Homo sapiens: one gene and its partner. The protein of the gene in region 1 interacts with the protein of each later gene in a biochemical or structural test. Each region holds a gene or a part of one and is shown in the gene's direction. Other genes may lie near its edges. The genes, in order: IPO5 and EIF4E.

The links.
Region 2: the proteins of IPO5 (region 1) and EIF4E form a complex in vitro, tested with the Homo sapiens proteins (one study listed by IntAct).

The regions. Positions count from the first base shown.
Region 1 is NC_000013.11:98,012,490-98,016,314, forward strand, and holds part of IPO5 (importin-5), read left to right. Parts: intron 1-1,552; coding exon 1,553-1,725; intron 1,726-3,040; coding exon 3,041-3,152; intron 3,153-3,236; coding exon 3,237-3,292; intron 3,293-3,825. UniProt on the Homo sapiens protein: Functions in nuclear protein import as nuclear transport receptor. Serves as receptor for nuclear localization signals (NLS) in cargo substrates.
Region 2 is NC_000004.12:98,884,045-98,887,869, reverse strand, and holds part of EIF4E (eukaryotic translation initiation factor 4E), read left to right. Parts: intron 1-677; coding exon 678-791; intron 792-1,323; coding exon of another isoform or gene 1,324-1,416; intron 1,417-2,808; coding exon 2,809-2,948; intron 2,949-3,825. UniProt on the Homo sapiens protein: Acts in the cytoplasm to initiate and regulate protein synthesis and is required in the nucleus for export of a subset of mRNAs from the nucleus to the cytoplasm which promotes processes such as RNA capping, processing and splicing.

The DNA.
Region 1 (3,825 bases):
CTGCATGTGCCTTTGTTTCCACTTGTGCCAAAACATGAAAAAGAAAACGTGACCTATCCTATGTTTGTCAGCTTTCTGTGGCCCACTTAAGGATTTAAGGATAATTAGCAAATGATTACAATTATATATAGTTGCTACTTTCCCCAAATATCTTTTGGTAAACGTTAAGAAAATAAGACTTTTATTTTAAGAGATGGTGTCTCACTCTGTCACCTAGGCTGGAGTGCAGTGGCGTGATCAGGACGCACTGAAACCACAACTTCCCAAGTAGCTGGGACCCAGGTGCACAACACCAAGCCCAGCTAGATTTGATTTTTTTTTTTTTTTTTTTTTTTTTTAAGAGATAAGGTCTGCCTATGTTGCCCAGGCTGGTCTCAAACTCCTGGGCTCAAGCAGTCCTCCTGCCTTGGCCCCACAAAGTTATGGGATTACACACCTGAGCACTGTGCCTGGCAAGACCTGTCTTAATAGATTAGAGAACCACTGATAGATGGTCAGCTTTCTGTAGCAGTGAGAACCCTACATTTCAAATGTGGATAGCACCTTTGCGGGGAAACATCACTTGGCACATCTGCATTCTTTTTTGACACAGGGTCTCACTCTGTTGCCCAGGCTAGAGTGCATGGCACGATCTTAGCTCACTGCAACCTCCACCTCCCAAGTTCAAGCGATTCTTCTGCCTCAGCCTCCTGAGCAGCTGGGATCACAGACATGCGCTACCATGCCCAGCTAATTTTTTGTATTTTTTGTTTGTTTGTTTTTGTTTTTAAGTAGAGACGGGCTTTCACCACGTTGGCCAGGCAGGTCTCGAACTCCTGACCTCAGGTGATCCACCCACATCTGCGTTCCAATATCTTTCTCAACATAATGATAGCCGTAATTAATATTTTCCAGTACATTTTTATGCCTTTACACACGAGAGTGGTAGACAGACACAAACCCAGATCTGTCTGACTCCAAAGCCCGTTTGTCATCATTCCTTTTACGGTATCCTATAGTGGTATCCTTTACAGAAGACAGCTTTTACCCAACAAAGACTTAACTTCCCAGGATGCCAGAGGACAAAGCGGGATTGCTTTTAAGAGGAAGTTATCAAGACCTTATTTTATAAATGAGATTAGATAGGGAAAGGCAATTTAATCTTTATTAAAAACTGAAAAGGCCAGCATAGGAAGAGGTCCTCGGTGGTCTTTTTCAGGGAAATACTTCAGTTGCTTTTATTAGAAACAGATAGTACCTAAGGTTTTGAGGTAGGTACAGCTTAAGGCATGCTAATGGTCATGGGTCCTTCCATAGTCATTTTTGTATTTTGGTTTACATTTGAGCAATAGGCAGCCCTTCACTGCTGCTGGACTCATTCCTGCCACTATTACAGGTGACAGAGGAGACAGGAGGTATGTCTTTTCTATTTTTATACATGCTTTATATTTAACACAAGCTCTTGGGTATCTTAGATAAACAGAAGTTGCCTAGCACTCCTTTTAGTGCATTGAACCCTTTAACATTTAAGCAAAATAATAAACAGTCTTTTGAGGTTCCTTAACAATGAAACGTGTTCGAGTGGCAGCAGCGGAATCCATGCCTCTTCTCCTGGAGTGTGCAAGAGTCCGTGGTCCTGAGTATCTCACACAGATGTGGCATTTTATGTGTGATGCTCTAATTAAGGCCATTGGTACAGAACCAGATTCAGACGTCCTCTCAGAAATAATGCATTCTTTTGCAAAGGTGAATATTTTTCTCTTAAAAAATATGTATAAGGTTGTATGTTCATTTATTAGTCTTGCTAAAAGTAAAAAAAAAAAATTTGAGACAGGGTATTGCTCTGTCACCCAGGCTGGAGTGCAGTGGCGCAATCGCAGCTCACTGCAACCTCCACCTCCTGGGTTCAAGCAATTCTCATGCCTCATCCTTCCAAGTAGTTGGGATTATAGGCATGCACCACCACACCTGGCTACTTTTTGTATTTTTAGTAGATGTTCCTCAGGTCTCAAACTCCTGGCCTCAGGTGATCCACCTCGGCCTCCCAGAGTGCTGGGATTGCAGATGTAAGGCAGCTAAATAAATTTTTATATGCTATAGTGTATGATTTGTTAAAAAATAAAAATGTTAAATTTTTTGTTTTAATATTTTGGTATTATTATGTTTGTTTTAAAGAGGGTAAATTTGCCTTGGAAGGGCAGTATAGGTAGAGGGAATGATATGGGCAGCAGCATGGAAGCATGCATTCTTTGGAAAAAGAGAAGAAATTCTGAATACTCTAGTATTTTAGTCTTGCACTTAATAATCCAACTATAGAAGCTTGGGTATCATCTCCAGTTTCTGTTCTTTACACTTTCCTCAATTCTTCTCTTTTTTTTTTTTTTCATTGCCCCATCTCTTTTTCATGCCATTGAAATAGCCTCACTTGGGCTACTCCAGATGTCTCCTTTCTTTTCCTCTCAGTTCATTCTCCTTTCCTCAAGCACTGCCTTCCTCTTCATTGAGTCACTTCCTTTCTCATACAGTGTCACTCCCATTTTGCACAACTCTAGTTTGCTCCAATCTTGATTGAAGATTTACAGTTTCTCAGCATCTTTATATGTCCTTATTTACACTCCTGTAATTCAGAATTGCTTCTGATTTTCCAAAGACAGCATGCTTCCATACCTTTGCCTATATTTTATTTCTTCTACCTCTAATGCCCTTCCTTCAGTGTTCTTGTATGTTGTGTGTACGGAGTATGGATATAGCAATTGTGTTCCTTAGGAGCTGGTTGTGTGTGTGTGTGTGTGTGTGTGTGTGTTTTCCATCTTTGAATCCTCAGTACCAAGCATGATGCCTGGCACCTAGGTATGCTCAGTAGTGTTCAAAAGAAAATATTTTTTTCTAACTCCAATCTCTAAAATGCTGTCATTCTAACAAATACAAGCTAAGCATATGTAAATAATCTTCCAGGATACTGAACTGTGTTCATTTTTCCATATGATTCTTAGTGGAGTTTAACTTTGGACTCCAAACACCCCAAATCTTATGGATTGCTTTCTTTCCTCAACCTCATTAGTGCATTGAAGTAATGGGAGATGGATGCCTTAATAATGAACACTTTGAAGAACTGGGAGGTATATTGAAAGCAAAGCTTGAAGAACATTTTAAAAATCAAGAATTACGACAAGGTAAGTTTTCCATGCTTTTATTTCTGAATATAATCCTTGACCATCTTGGCAATCATTTAAAACATTTATTTGGGTGTGTTTTAGTTAAAAGACAAGATGAAGACTATGATGAACAGGTCGAAGAGTCACTACAAGATGAGGTAAGTTATTCCCTTTGGAACTTACTTACGTGACCACTTGCATCTGAAAGACTTGTAAATGCCTCAATTTCTGATTTATGTGACTTGTCATTCTGATGTAATTATCAGTCTTTAGCAGAGGAGTCAGATATATTTCCTCTCTTAATTTATGAATAAGTAATTTGAAATTAAACTGATATGTCTTTCGGTGCTATGTGCATTTTGTTGTAATACCTCACTCAACAAAACACCTTGAGGTTTACCTAGTTCATTTACATACTGCTCACAACAACCATTTGTATTTTGTGGTGCTTTCACTATATTAAAGATGAGTAACCTAAAATTCCAGTGTTAAATGATTGCCTAGAGTCACACTGTTGACGGTCTGGGGCCTTTTTCACCATGTTACTTAGTTCTCTCATCAAACCACCTAGGACTGTCAAGCATACTTCATTGTGTGTTTAGAGTCCAGCATCTCATATGTGGCCACTTGGTGGGCCAGTGCTACCGTGTAGGTAGTACCAGCTTCCTGAAGGTGCCCACATGCTTGTAGG
Region 2 (3,825 bases), on another chromosome or scaffold:
TTATATATTTATTATAGGACTGGGCCATTTGGTATTCATTAAGAAATCTTACCATAAACTTAGGAATATTTGATAGTGTGATGAATAGGCTGATAATTTAATTGGCTGTAGTATGCTTTAGTATCAATATATCTTATTCTATTTGTTTATAAAAATTGAGAGAGAGTTACTCTGTGGGCACATACTGAGATTGATTTTGATGAGAGCTTTGATTATCCAGTCTACTCCTTCCTTTATATATTTGAGCAGACTGAGTTTATCAAGCATTCTTAACCTTAGGAGCATGGGTCCTTGGAATACTTATTATTGGGCTTTGTCAGTTGGTAGAGGGACGGGACATTCATTAACTGAAATTGCATAGTTTTTGCATGTATTTTCTAGCTGTAGAAATGTACAGAGCTTCTAAAATATGTTTGCTTCTCAGAAAGTTTAAGAACCTTCAAATTAAGTGAAACCCAAGATTTGATAGCTAATAAGTGACAAAGCCAGGACTCTAATTCTGCAATGTCATGCCTCTGGCTTTAAGTCTTATGTGCTGTTTAAAAACTACATCAATGGCAGTTTTATGGGCAATAAAGTAAGAAGTTGACAGTGTTGTTGCTTAACTGTTTCTAATGATTATCTCTCAAAGTCAAGGTAACAATGTTGTGTAATACTGTTGTCTTCTAACCCTGTAGGATGGTATTGAGCCTATGTGGGAAGATGAGAAAAACAAACGGGGAGGACGATGGCTAATTACATTGAACAAACAGCAGAGACGAAGTGACCTCGATCGCTTTTGGCTAGAGACAGTAAGGTTTTAAAAGTATAAAGCAGTTTTAGAGGTAGTTTTGGAATACTGATACTTAAGATATGTTATGTTTTACATTTGTTACTTAATTTAAGAGAAGGATGCCCAACACTAGAAAATCAGGGTCAGTAATTATTTTTGTTCTGTCATATGACTCCTGTTTATAGTACAGTGAAACATCCTACCACATTATAAGTCAGATATTTTAAGTGATTGGCAGTTGACTCTCACCACAGTAAGCTCACTGTGGTCATTTCATTAACCTCAAAATTATAGAACCTTACATTTTGTATGATTGAAGTTTTTGCAACCCTCTTACAGCATTGCTATATGTATACTAAACTTTTAAATACTTATATTTTTAGAGCGAGGGTCTTGCTCTGTTGCCCAGGCTGGAGTGCGGATATTTATTTATATGGCTCATTTCAGCCTCACCCTCTGGGTTCAAGTGATCCTCCCACTTCAGCCTCTTAAGTAGCTGGGACTACAGGTGCATGCCACCATGCCCAGCTAATTTTCTAATTTTTTTCCAGAGATGGGATCTTGCTATGTTGCCCAGGTTGGTCTCAAACTTCTGGCCTCAAGTGATCCTCCCACTTCAGCCTCCCAAAGTGCTGGAATTACAGGTGTGAGTCACTGTGCCTGTCCCACTAAACTTTTTAGATTAGTGAAGCAAATAATAAAATTGTTGTGTACTACCATTTGACCTACATGTTGTGATATTAACTGGAACTTCTGGCTTTACAAGACAAATTAAATATGAGATAATAAGCATTTTCTGTAGACAGAGGTTCCAAACCCCAAGCTTATAGGAGCGGGGTTTGTAGTCTCTTTTGTATCCCTAGCACTTGAAACCGTGCCTGGTTTATAGTTAGCACTTGTTAAGTTAATCACTTTAAATGTTTGAATAAGTGACTATTTTGCTTTTTTTTAGAGACAGGGTCTTGTTCTGTCGCCCAGGCTAGAGTGCAGTGGGGCCATCATAGCTCACTGTAGCCTCCTGGGTTCAAGCAATCATCCTGCCTTAGCCTCTCAAGTAGCTGGGACTACAGGTGCATGCCAGCACAGCCAGCTAATGAATGAATGACTTTTTAAGAAGAAAATTCTGTTTTTGAGGGGGAAGATCATGAGCAAATACCATTTTTGAATTCCACATTAAAAAGTCAGGACATTTCCATTTTGCAGTTAAAAAAAATCTTCTGGAGATGGATGGTAGTAGGGATGGTTGTACAACAATGTTGAATGTACTTAACACCACTGAACTGTACACTTAAAGGTGGTTAAAATGGTAAATTTTATGTTATTTGTATTTTACCACAATTAAGAAATCTGTTAGGGCTGGGCTCACACCTGTGATCTCAACACTTCAGGAGGCTGAGGCAGGCATTTCACTTAAACTCAGGAGTTCAAGACCAGTTTGGGCAACATGGCAAAACCCTGTCTCTACAAAAAATACAAAAATTAACTGGGTATGGTGACATGTCCCTGTATGTATGCCCACCTACTCAGGAGGCTGAGGTGGAAGGATCATTTGAGCCCAGGAGGTTGAGGCTGCAGTGAGCTGTGATGATCCCACTGCACTCCAGCCAGGGTGACAGAGCAAGACCCTGTCTCAAACAACAACAACAACAAAAAACCAGACCATTAACAAATATTCATAAAAAATAAGAACAAGAGGAGATTAACCATGAATAGCTATTTTTATTATTCTATTAATATTTGTTTGCTCATAAATATAAGCAGCAGCAGAGCAAATGAATATTAATAAAATCAGCTTTTATGTCTGCCATGACATTAACTGCCAAATTTGCTGAAAAAGGCTGATTTGATAGTAAATAAATGAATGAGTATTTAAAAGTCAGGACAGATCAATATATGCAAATAAAATTTACACATTTAAAAAATTAACTCTTGATTTAAAAACTGCCTTTAGTTTCTATGCAAATACAGAAGAGACATTTGCAGTGTAATGAGCTTGTTTATAATCTATTAAATGTAATTTGGGATTTTTTTTTAAGCTTCTGTGCCTTATTGGAGAATCTTTTGATGACTACAGTGATGATGTATGTGGCGCTGTTGTTAATGTTAGAGCTAAAGGTGATAAGATAGCAATATGGACTACTGAATGTGAAAACAGAGAAGCTGTTACACATATAGGGTAAGTTTTGCTCTTTGCCTACTTATTTTACAGTATTAAGATGAGTAAAACCAGAAGTTATTTTATTTGTAGCTTTAGAAATACTTCAGTTTGTAGATCCTGTTTTCCTTGTATTGTTTTCGTGAACACTTTTATAATTTTGAACGGCTCAATTGGTGCGCAACGTCTTGTTTTTTTGGGTTTTTTCACAGCTATTTATTTATTTATTTATTTAGAGATAGAGTCTCACTCTGTTGTCCAGGCTATATATAGTACAGTGGCATGATCTAGGCTCACTGCAACCTCCGCCTCCCGGGTTCAGGAGATTGTTATGTCTCAGCCTCCCGAGTAGCTGGGAATACAGGCGCATGCCACCATGCTTGGGTAATTTTTATATTTTTAGTAGAGACCAGGTTTTGCCACGTTGGCCAGGCTGGTCTTTTAACTTTTGGTCTCAAGTGATCCGTCCACCTCAGCCTCCCAAAGTGCTATCATTACAGGCATGAGCCACTGCGCCTGGCCTTTTTCATATGTTTTTTATTTCTGTAAAATTGCTTTTTCTTAGCAGTGAAGTATATAACCACTAGAGCACTCTCCTTTGGCATGTAGCATTTTTTATTCATTCACAAATGAGAATGTATTATTTCCTACTTTGAAAGTGCTGTTTGGAAAAAAGTACTACTTTGAAAAGAGCTAATGTATGCTCATAATAATAATTCAGTGATTATTGGCAAATAGTATATGTGCATTTAAAGCATGTGTGTTTACTACGTATAATTTTCATTAAAATTTATATAACATATCTTGGTTTTTGTTCCATGTTTAAAACCCACATATGTAGGGTTTTATTAAACCTTTTTTTGTAAATTTTATTCTTTGCAAAAGTGGCTTTTTTTTT